3 linked regions of the Homo sapiens genome follow. The protein of the gene in region 1 interacts with the protein of each later gene in a pairwise test. Each region holds a gene or a part of one and is shown in the gene's direction. Other genes may lie near its edges.

The links.
Region 2: the proteins of RAB9A (region 1) and NISCH interact in binary tests that used the Homo sapiens proteins (3 or more experiments, as listed by UniProt).
Region 3: the proteins of RAB9A (region 1) and HPS4 interact in a two-hybrid assay, tested with the Homo sapiens proteins (one study listed by IntAct).

What each region holds. Positions count from the first base shown.
Region 1 is NC_000023.11:13,708,473-13,711,065, forward strand, and holds the end of RAB9A (ras-related protein Rab-9A), read left to right. Parts: intron 1-248; 5' UTR 249-274; coding exon 275-880; 3' UTR 881-2,032; downstream 2,033-2,593. UniProt on the Homo sapiens protein: The small GTPases Rab are key regulators of intracellular membrane trafficking, from the formation of transport vesicles to their fusion with membranes.
Region 2 is NC_000003.12:52,490,070-52,493,706, forward strand, and holds the end of NISCH (nischarin), read left to right. Parts: intron 1-5; coding exon 6-162; intron 163-635; coding exon 636-764; intron 765-1,282; coding exon 1,283-1,444; intron 1,445-1,802; coding exon 1,803-2,413; 3' UTR 2,414-2,999; downstream 3,000-3,637. UniProt on the Homo sapiens protein: Acts either as the functional imidazoline-1 receptor (I1R) candidate or as a membrane-associated mediator of the I1R signaling.
Region 3 is NC_000022.11:26,470,148-26,473,801, reverse strand, and holds part of HPS4 (BLOC-3 complex member HPS4), read left to right. Parts: intron 1-862; coding exon 863-970; intron 971-1,383; coding exon 1,384-1,500; intron 1,501-2,413; exon of another isoform or gene 2,414-2,511; coding exon of another isoform or gene 2,512-2,589; intron 2,590-2,879; exon of another isoform or gene 2,880-2,988; coding exon 2,989-3,083; intron 3,084-3,654.

The sequences.
Region 1 (2,593 bases):
CTTGAGTGCCAGCTTCACAGTCAACTGTGACCTGAGAAAAGGGAAGAGTGAGCCCTTCCCAGCTGTTTCAGAGAATAATGGTAGAATAGTAGCCTGCACATGGCTAAGTGCTCAGTAAACAACAAGTCTTATTATTAGGTATTCCCTGGGGCCATATGTTTTATTTCAGCTAAATGCTGATATTCGTAGAATCATGTAGAAGAATGTGTAGGTATAAAGGAATGTAATGGTGCCTTTTTATTTTACAGGGTTCTTGAAGCTTTTGAGATTAACAATGGCAGGAAAATCATCACTTTTTAAAGTAATTCTCCTTGGAGATGGTGGAGTTGGGAAGAGTTCACTTATGAACAGATATGTAACTAATAAGTTTGATACCCAGCTCTTCCATACAATAGGTGTGGAATTTTTAAATAAAGATTTGGAAGTGGATGGACATTTTGTTACCATGCAGATTTGGGACACGGCAGGTCAGGAGCGATTCCGAAGCCTGAGGACACCATTTTACAGAGGTTCTGACTGCTGCCTGCTTACTTTTAGTGTCGATGATTCACAAAGCTTCCAGAACTTAAGTAACTGGAAGAAAGAATTCATATATTATGCAGATGTGAAAGAGCCTGAGAGCTTTCCTTTTGTGATTCTGGGTAACAAGATTGACATAAGCGAACGGCAGGTGTCTACAGAAGAAGCCCAAGCTTGGTGCAGGGACAACGGCGACTATCCTTATTTTGAAACAAGTGCAAAAGATGCCACAAATGTGGCAGCAGCCTTTGAGGAAGCGGTTCGAAGAGTTCTTGCTACCGAGGATAGGTCAGATCATTTGATTCAGACAGACACAGTCAATCTTCACCGAAAGCCCAAGCCTAGCTCATCTTGCTGTTGATTGTTAGATTGTTGATGCATTCTAACCAACTCACACATATACACAAAATCAACATGGGGATGGAGAAGAGAATTAGCGTTTGCAGCAGTGTATCATCTACTAATAAAATTAAACTAATGTTGCTGCTTCATTAGTTGGTGGGAGAAGGGACACATCCACTCTTGGAGGAATATATTTACTCAATAATGGCACCTTACATTTATAAATTGTAACAGTTGTCTAATAACGTTTCTTTAATTTAAATATGTAAGTTGCAGAGCTAATAAATGAAATGACCAAGACTTTAATTATAATAAAAATAAGAAACTTGACTATTCTAGAAGTTATACTTGGATTTTTTCCTGGGAAAATGGAGAACTACTTTTTATATGTGTATGTTTTTATGCAATTAGCATTGTATTCTTGGTTCAGGGAAATACTTTCCTAAAGCAATAATGTTAGATATTAAAGATTAAAATCTAATGTATTTGCAATGCATTGTTAATTTACTTCTTCATTCTCTTCAAAATGATTTAACCATTCCTGTTTTCATTCTACATACTAGAATTACTCTCACTAGTAATTACTCATCATTTGTGTGCCATTCATGCACCCCCACCCCCATAAATCATGTTCCACAGTCTCAGGCGGAGGGTGGGCCCCCAGTGGTACAAGAGTTGCTTCATACAGTCTGTAATACATCCAGCTAAATTCAAGTTGTCTATGAATGGAAAGCCTTTCCATAGATAGAGTTCAGTTTTAAGAAAAAGGCTAACTACTGAACTTGGAGAACAGACAAATGTGCATTTGATAACTGATGTAATAATTACAATGTACTGTGTGGAAGATACAAAATTACAATTCGATTAATGGACTAAATATTTTTGTTACTTTCTTGACCCTTGGGGAAAGTTTCTTAATTGAAGTTAAAACATTCCTTTATAACACAAGACACAAGCTGACTTTATCACTCTCAGAAGAAATACTAAGAAGGATTGTACTTTGTGAGAGGGTAAACGAAGACATCTTTATTCGGCAATGTATTTACTTAGTGTCTTCTCTATTACTGAACATTTAGTGATTTGCTCTCAAGGAGATTTTTTGTTAGAAAAAGACTTGTTGCAGTGATCAGACTTGATAAAGCAAATTGTGGTCTTTTGTGGATGAAGTTCATATGCTGTGTGGTTGGTGACTATCTGATTCTATGGAGGCTAACCAAAGCCTAGACTGAGTGTGGATGAGACCCTCAACTGGGGAGTGATGGGGATATCAAAGGACATGCTGGGTGAGAGGAGCTGACTGTCATGTAGGGAGTGAACCACTGCCCCCAGCAGAGATACAGTTCGGTTTTAAGAAAAAAGGCAAGGCCAGGCGCGGTGGCTCACGCCTGCAATCCCAACACTTTTGGAGGTCAAGAGGTCGACACCATCCTTGACAACATGGTGAACCCGGTCTCTACTAAAAATACAAAAATTAGTTGGGCATCGTGCCTGTAGTCCCAGCTTCTCGGAAGGCTGACGCAGGAGAATCACTTGAACCCGGAAGGTGGAGGTTGCAGTGAGCCGAGATCACATCACTGCACTCCAGCCTGGTGACAGTGAGACTCCACCTCAAAAAAAAAAAAAAAAAAAAAAAAAGCAAACTACTGAACTGGAGAACAGACAAACCTGCATTTGTTAACTGATGTAACAATTACAATGTGCTGTGTGGAAGATACAAAATTACAATTCATTA
Region 2 (3,637 bases), on another chromosome or scaffold:
TTCAGGTTGAAAACGAGGAGCTGAGGCACCTCATGTGGTCCTCGGTGGTGTTCTACCAGACCCCAGGGCTGGAGGTGACTGCCTGCGTGCTGCTCTCCACCAAGGCTGTGTACTTTGTGCTCCACGACGGCCTCCGCCGCTACTTCTCAGAGCCACTGCAGGGTAGGCACAGGGCCTGCTGGGGCTCAGGAGCTTGGAGTGTGTGGTTGGGGCAGGCCTGGGGGGTCATTCTCTGGAGCCAGCTGTGTGGCTTCAGGCAGCAGTCAGCGACTTGGCTGCAGTGGGCTGAGAGTTCCTTGTCTGAGGAAGGGAGCTGTCATGAGGGAGGGGTCCATGGCCAGATGTGAACGCAGAATGCACTGAGCCAGGGCCTGGTGACTGCTTGGGAACAGCCAGTGATGAGAAGGGGTTAGGCAGCCTTTGCCCCTGGGGCTGCACAGGAAGCCCTAGCCAGCGACCTGGTGACTCCCCTGAGCTGGAAGAGGCTCCGACTCCAGAGGGCATTGCCTATGGGGCTTTGCACGGGTGGAAGCCAGGCCAGCCAAGAGGACCTGTTCCTGCTGGATGTGCTGCACACCTAGGAACCTTGTGCTTGCCTGCCACCGCCTCCCTCTGTCCCTTTCTCCATCACACAGATTTCTGGCATCAGAAAAACACCGACTACAACAACAGCCCTTTCCACATCTCCCAGTGCTTCGTGCTAAAGCTTAGTGACCTGCAGTCAGTCAATGTGGGGCTTTTCGACCAGCATTTCCGGCTGACGGGTGGGTGACCCTCTGTGCTTTGTCCTATTTCGGGTGAAGGCCAGCATCACCAGTGGGCTTCCACCTTCCGTACGTGGGTGGGTTATCATAGACAGTTATCTCTGTGCTCAAGAGCCACTTCTTAACCGGGGTGGGAGGAAGCAGCTTCAGGAACTGCTGAGAGAGCAGAACTCACGCTCCAGGGCTCAGAGCAGGAGGTAGGGTGTGCGGCAAGCGCTGGCCCGGACAGAAGCAGAGTGGGCCCTGGTCTCGGGCAGGATGTTTCTGACTCACATTTCCTGAGGAGAGAAAGCTAAGCTCTTTGCCTAATGTCTCTGTCTCCCCTTCCAGAAAAATGCCTCAGCTCTTCCGGCCTGAAGGAATGGCCTCCTCCCGGGCCCCATGATTCTTTCCTGTGTGGGCCCTCCTGGCCCTGGCCTCTGGGCTGAGGCTTGCTAGGGACTCGGGGTGGCTCTAAGGGGCAGGGATAGGGCTGGGGAGCGCCGGCCTGTGGCCCTGACCAGCCCCTTCTCGTGCAGGTTCCACCCCGATGCAGGTGGTCACGTGCTTGACGCGGGACAGCTACCTGACGCACTGCTTCCTCCAGCACCTCATGGTCGTGCTGTCCTCTCTGGAACGCACGCCCTCGCCGGAGCCTGTTGACAAGGACTTCTACTCCGAGTTTGGGAACAAGACCACAGGTACCCCTGTCTAGCTCAGGCTGCAGACAGGCTGCCTGGACAGACGTCATGGGCCCCAGGGTGGCTCTCTGTGCCCCAGAACCCTCTCTGCCTCTATGTCTCTCTTTTCTCACTTAGCTGGCCAGGGTTTTATGTGGGGCTTTTCGATGGCAGAGTCTCCACTCCAGCAGTCCCTCAACCATCTGGCAGACACATCTCCAGTGCCTGCTTTGGGCTCCTGGCCTGTGGGCCCCACACTTGGAGCATCCTCTCCTGCCTGTCTCATGCCGGGGTCTCTCGGTTGGCTTGGGGCCCTTGGTGCTCCCAGCCCCACCAGGGGCCGGTTCCAGGCTATAGCCCAGGTGGCATCTCTCTGCAGGGAAGATGGAGAACTACGAGCTGATCCACTCTAGTCGCGTCAAGTTTACCTACCCCAGTGAGGAGGAGATTGGGGACCTGACGTTCACTGTGGCCCAAAAGATGGCTGAGCCAGAGAAGGCCCCAGCCCTCAGCATCCTGCTGTACGTGCAGGCCTTCCAGGTGGGCATGCCACCCCCTGGGTGCTGCAGGGGCCCCCTGCGCCCCAAGACACTCCTGCTCACCAGCTCCGAGATCTTCCTCCTGGATGAGGACTGTGTCCACTACCCACTGCCCGAGTTTGCCAAAGAGCCGCCGCAGAGAGACAGGTACCGGCTGGACGATGGCCGCCGCGTCCGGGACCTGGACCGAGTGCTCATGGGCTACCAGACCTACCCGCAGGCCCTCACCCTCGTCTTCGATGACGTGCAAGGTCATGACCTCATGGGCAGTGTCACCCTGGACCACTTTGGGGAGGTGCCAGGTGGCCCGGCTAGAGCCAGCCAGGGCCGTGAAGTCCAGTGGCAGGTGTTTGTCCCCAGTGCTGAGAGCAGAGAGAAGCTCATCTCGCTGTTGGCTCGCCAGTGGGAGGCCCTGTGTGGCCGTGAGCTGCCTGTCGAGCTCACCGGCTAGCCCAGGCCACAGCCAGCCTGTCGTGTCCAGCCTGACGCCTACTGGGGCAGGGCAGCAGGCTTTTGTGTTCTCTAAAAATGTTTTATCCTCCCTTTGGTACCTTAATTTGACTGTCCTCGCAGAGAATGTGAACATGTGTGTGTGTTGTGTTAATTCTTTCTCATGTTGGGAGTGAGAATGCCGGGCCCCTCAGGGCTGTCGGTGTGCTGTCAGCCTCCCACAGGTGGTACAGCCGTGCACACCAGTGTCGTGTCTGCTGTTGTGGGACCGTTGTTAACACGTGACACTGTGGGTCTGACTTTCTCTTCTACACGTCCTTTCCTGAAGTGTCGAGTCCAGTCCTTTGTTGCTGTTGCTGTTGCTGTTGCTGTTGCTGTTGCTGTTGGCATCTTGCTGCTAATCCTGAGGCTGGTAGCAGAATGCACATTGGAAGCTCCCACCCCATATTGTTCTTCAAAGTGGAGGTCTCCCCTGATCCAGACAAGTGGGAGAGCCCGTGGGGGCAGGGGACCTGGAGCTGCCAGCACCAAGCGTGATTCCTGCTGCCTGTATTCTCTATTCCAATAAAGCAGAGTTTGACACCGTCTGCATCTTCTAAACCAAGGGTCACTGGGATCCCAGCAGGGCTTCCGTCCAGGGCGTGGTCACATGGGGGAGGGAGGGTGCCCTGGAGACAGGAGGGTGAGGGGTTGGGGGAAAGGAAGGAGCAGCCCTCCAGGAGCCAGATGCTTCTTGGAACATGGGAGGCATGACAGGGCCATGGCCTCTCTGGACAGTGCCATGCTGGGCTGTGGCTAAACCATGAGCGCAGGGCAAACAAGAAACTCCTCAGGGCACCCCTGACACACCAGCCGCTGCCCCTCTGCCTGGGTGCGGGGCATGCCACCCTCTTCAGGCTGTCCTGCAGGTCTTATGTGTCAGTCACCCCTGGGCCCAACCCCACCTGTTTCACAACCCCTGTTGAGAGTGGGGGAGGGGCGAGGAGGACAGAGAGATCCCAGAGTCTGAGGTGGCTGGTGGGGGCCGGGGCATCTCACCAAGGTGGCCCTTGAATGGCAGCAGGGGAGGTCTGTGGGGAGGTGGACCCAGGTGGTGGACAGTGGAGGGAGGGGCACATACCCATCTGTGTCTGTCTTCATGTCCCTGAAACATGAGGCTCATGGGCCCCTCCCTGAGGGTTGCTTCAGGGAGCCTGCTGAGGTAGGACCTGGGATTTTGGTAGCC
Region 3 (3,654 bases), on another chromosome or scaffold:
CAGGCTCTTTAAACATATGACCAGATAACTTTCTAACTCAGCAAGTACTTTTTTTTTTTTGAGACGGTGTCTCGCTCTGTTGCCAGGCTGGAGTGCAGTAGCGCAATCTCGGCTCGCTGCAACCTCTGCCTCCCAGGTTCAAGCGATTCCCCTGCCTCAGCCTCCTGAGTAGCTGGGACTACAGGCACACACCACCACGCCCAGTATTTTTAGTAGAGACGGGGTTTCACCATGTTGGTCAGGATGGTCTCGATCTCTTGACCTCGTGATCCACTCAAAGTGCTGGGATTACAGGCATGAGCCACCGTGCCCGGCCAAGTATTTATCTTCTGTGGAACTAACCACTACGCTCAGCATTTTGGAGATCTAGGACTGGGAAGATTGCGGTCAGTTCTTGCTCTTAAAGCACTCTATCCAGCTGGAGAAACATGATGGCCATTCATGAAGGAGTTTGAGTCCTGTCCATTGTTTGTAATGGAATCCAGATTAAACATCTACTGTCCAAATAACAGTCCTAACAATGCAAGGGTCAGAAAAAAGGTCAGCATTATTGGCTCGAGGTAATAGAACAGACCTCATGGAGATACTGAAATTGGTGGTGGGCACTGAAGGTTGTAAGTTCTGGGGAAATGAACAATAAGGAAAAGGACATTTGAGATTGGAAAACATGAATTGAGGTACAGAACTTACTTGTCCATGGAGATTAACTTGGCCAGAATGAAGGGTGTGGACTCAGGGACAATAGAAGATCAATTTCGATGGGCCAGTGAAGTCAGGTAATTGAGAGCCCTGGATGCCAGGATTCTGGGCTTGGACTCAAAGAGAAGGAAGATGCTTGTCTTCCTGGTTTCTCTCTTTACAGGTGCTGGGCTGTGCTGTGGAGCTCCCTGATGTCAGCTGCAAGCGGTTTCTGGATCAGCTAGTTGGATTCTTTAATTTTTACAATGGACCTGTTTCCCTAGCTTATGAGGTACAAGTATGGGGTTGAGGAGTCTTACATTGGGCCTCTTTATAAAAACCGGTATTGCCAGAATGCAGCACTTACTCTGGGGTCTTGTATACTTCATATAAACACATTGTGTCTGGGGACAAGGTCAGGAGCTCTTGGAGGCCCCTCATATGCCTTTGGGCCTAGTGGCATAGGTCACATTTATTCCAAATGTTTATCCCCATCTCCTCCCTGGGATGTTTAGAAAGCGCAGGCCCTGCTTGCCACCCCCACGCGGCAGGCGCCGTGGATCTGTGATGGGATAGGTTTAAAACAGGTCCTCCCTTCCGGTCAGTTTCCTGTGTGAGGAACAATTTTTGAGGTAGTTGGGACTCTGGCCAAAGAATCTGTCCCTCAAAATCTCAGATATTGACCTGAGGCTCTTTCTGTTTTAGAACTGTTCTCAGGAAGAACTGAGCACGGAGTGGGACACCTTCATCGAGCAAATTCTGAAAAACACCAGTGATCTGCATAAGATTTTCAATTCCCTCTGGAACTTGGACCAAACTAAAGTAACATTTTCATCCTCCTTATTCATTTTATATGTAAGACTAGGGCTTCTGGATACTTTTTTAATATTCCTGAAGTGAACTATATCTGGAAAAGTGAGTAGAATGTCACTTCTCAGGCAGGGCCATGACACGGCAGGTCACCTCTCAGCCTCATTTCCCTTATCCAAAGAATGGTGTCAGCATACCTGCCTTCTTGAACTGTTTTGATGATCAAGTGAAGCAGTACCTCAAATGACACCAAGTAAATGCTCAGTAAAGGGAATTAGTATTTTGTTCATGCCTCAGAAGTGTTGAACTCAGTAATCTGAAGGCCGCCTCTCTTGATATTCATATCATATGATCTAGTTATTCTCAGCATCAAAAATGCCCAGCATGAACATTTCAAAAACAAGGTTGCTGTCTTTGAGAGAGAATGGTTGGGAACTGTTTTTGTATCTCTGAGCCGCTCCGTTTGCGGTTGGCACTCAGTGAAACCTAGGCTGCTTGTGTGGCTGGCCTGACCACCTGTGCTGCCCCATTAAGAGCCAGCTACCTGAGCCCTGACTCACAGCCCTCTCCTGTGTCTCACTGCGATAGTAAATAATGTCCCTGTAGCAGGGGTGTAGCACTGTGGCTCAGCCTTCACAGAGCATGACTCCACCAGACATGGGGAAGGGTTTTCCCTGCTCCAGTCTGGAAAACTTCCTGTAGCTGGCCCCAGAGCTTTATAGAATGGCTGGCTGGGATGGCACAGTCTTGAGGCTATGAAGAATAAACTTCTTAATGTGTCAGCAGCTCCGGAGGCTCCATTAACACTAGTTCTAACAGCTGGTGGATACTTGCTGGTTCTAGCTGGCAGGTGGAAGTCTGAGGAGGCTGCTGGTTATTGCTGGCTCTTCCTGACCAGGTCCAGATGCTTTTCTTGTATTTTTAGGGACTTCTAGGCCCCTGACTCCATACAAGGAATGTGGAACTGAGGCATATTTCCCCGAGTGAAAGAGCATGATGTTTTCATTTTATGTGATGGAATAGAGTCATGGAACCTGGTCAGACATCAAGCCACCTGTATCACCATGGGGATTGTGCTTCAGAAGGAAAGTGGAGGATAGGGTAGGTGGGTTTCACCTGGTACCATGACATGTATTTATAGGATACACCCTCCTCTTCTGCTGCCGTGAGGTCTTAGCATTGTCAGGGTAGACAGTCGGTCTCCCAGGCCATCTACTTTGACCCCTTTGAATAGCCATATGCCATATTTGCTGCACCTTCTAGCTTCTGGACAGGCCTCCTTGTTCTAAGAATTTGGCATTTAGTGGTGTCAGCAGTTCTGAGTATAGAGAGGTAGAATAGTCCCAAGCCATGGCACAGCTTTCACTGTGTGACACATTCTCCTTTTCCAGGCTTTGAGCTACACCCTGTCCAGCTGTTCTGTACAACCCTTTCCCCTTTTCTCCCTTCCTGATTGTGAGCATGCTGATGGGTGGGCATGATGCCTCTTGCCCTGCACAGGTGGAGCCCCTGTTGTTGCTGAAGGCAGCCCGCATTCTGCAGACCTGCCAGCGCTCGCCTCACATTCTCGCTGGCTGCATCCTCTATAAAGGACTGTGAGTAACTCCAGACCCCTTTCTTCCAGCCCCATTCCCTTGCTGCACAACTGACCATCAGCCACCTCCAGATCACAGTGGGGAGCCCAGTCTCTGGCCAGTTCCAAGTGGGCTGGTTCGGCAAATATCAGGTAGTTTAGATTTGACTCAGTTTAGAAAGACAGGTGTGTACCTGTCTTTGAGCAAAGCTGAGAAATTGGAAATAGTTGTGTTCAGAAAAGAGTTAAGAATGTCCCTATAATTCTCAGTATGGGGCATGCTGGAATAGTTGTCAGTCTGCAAAATGCTAATGCAGAGTCCCGAGCGTTGCCAGCAGCCAGCACTGTAGTCAAGAGGCATGGAAGGGGCCTGCTGTGACCCTCCTCCTGCTGCCCAGAGACCCTGGTGTGCTTGCCTCAGCTCAGCTCTGCAAAGCAGCCTTACAGGCCCTTATCCAGCTGCCTTCAAGCCTCTTGGCTGGGCCAGTGTCTTGGTTGGCCTCTGAGAATTCACTTCACTTCTTCATGTAGTTGGAGGGCTTCTTGGTGAATCTGAGTGCCCAAGAGCCACTCTAGGTCATCTAAGGCCTCTC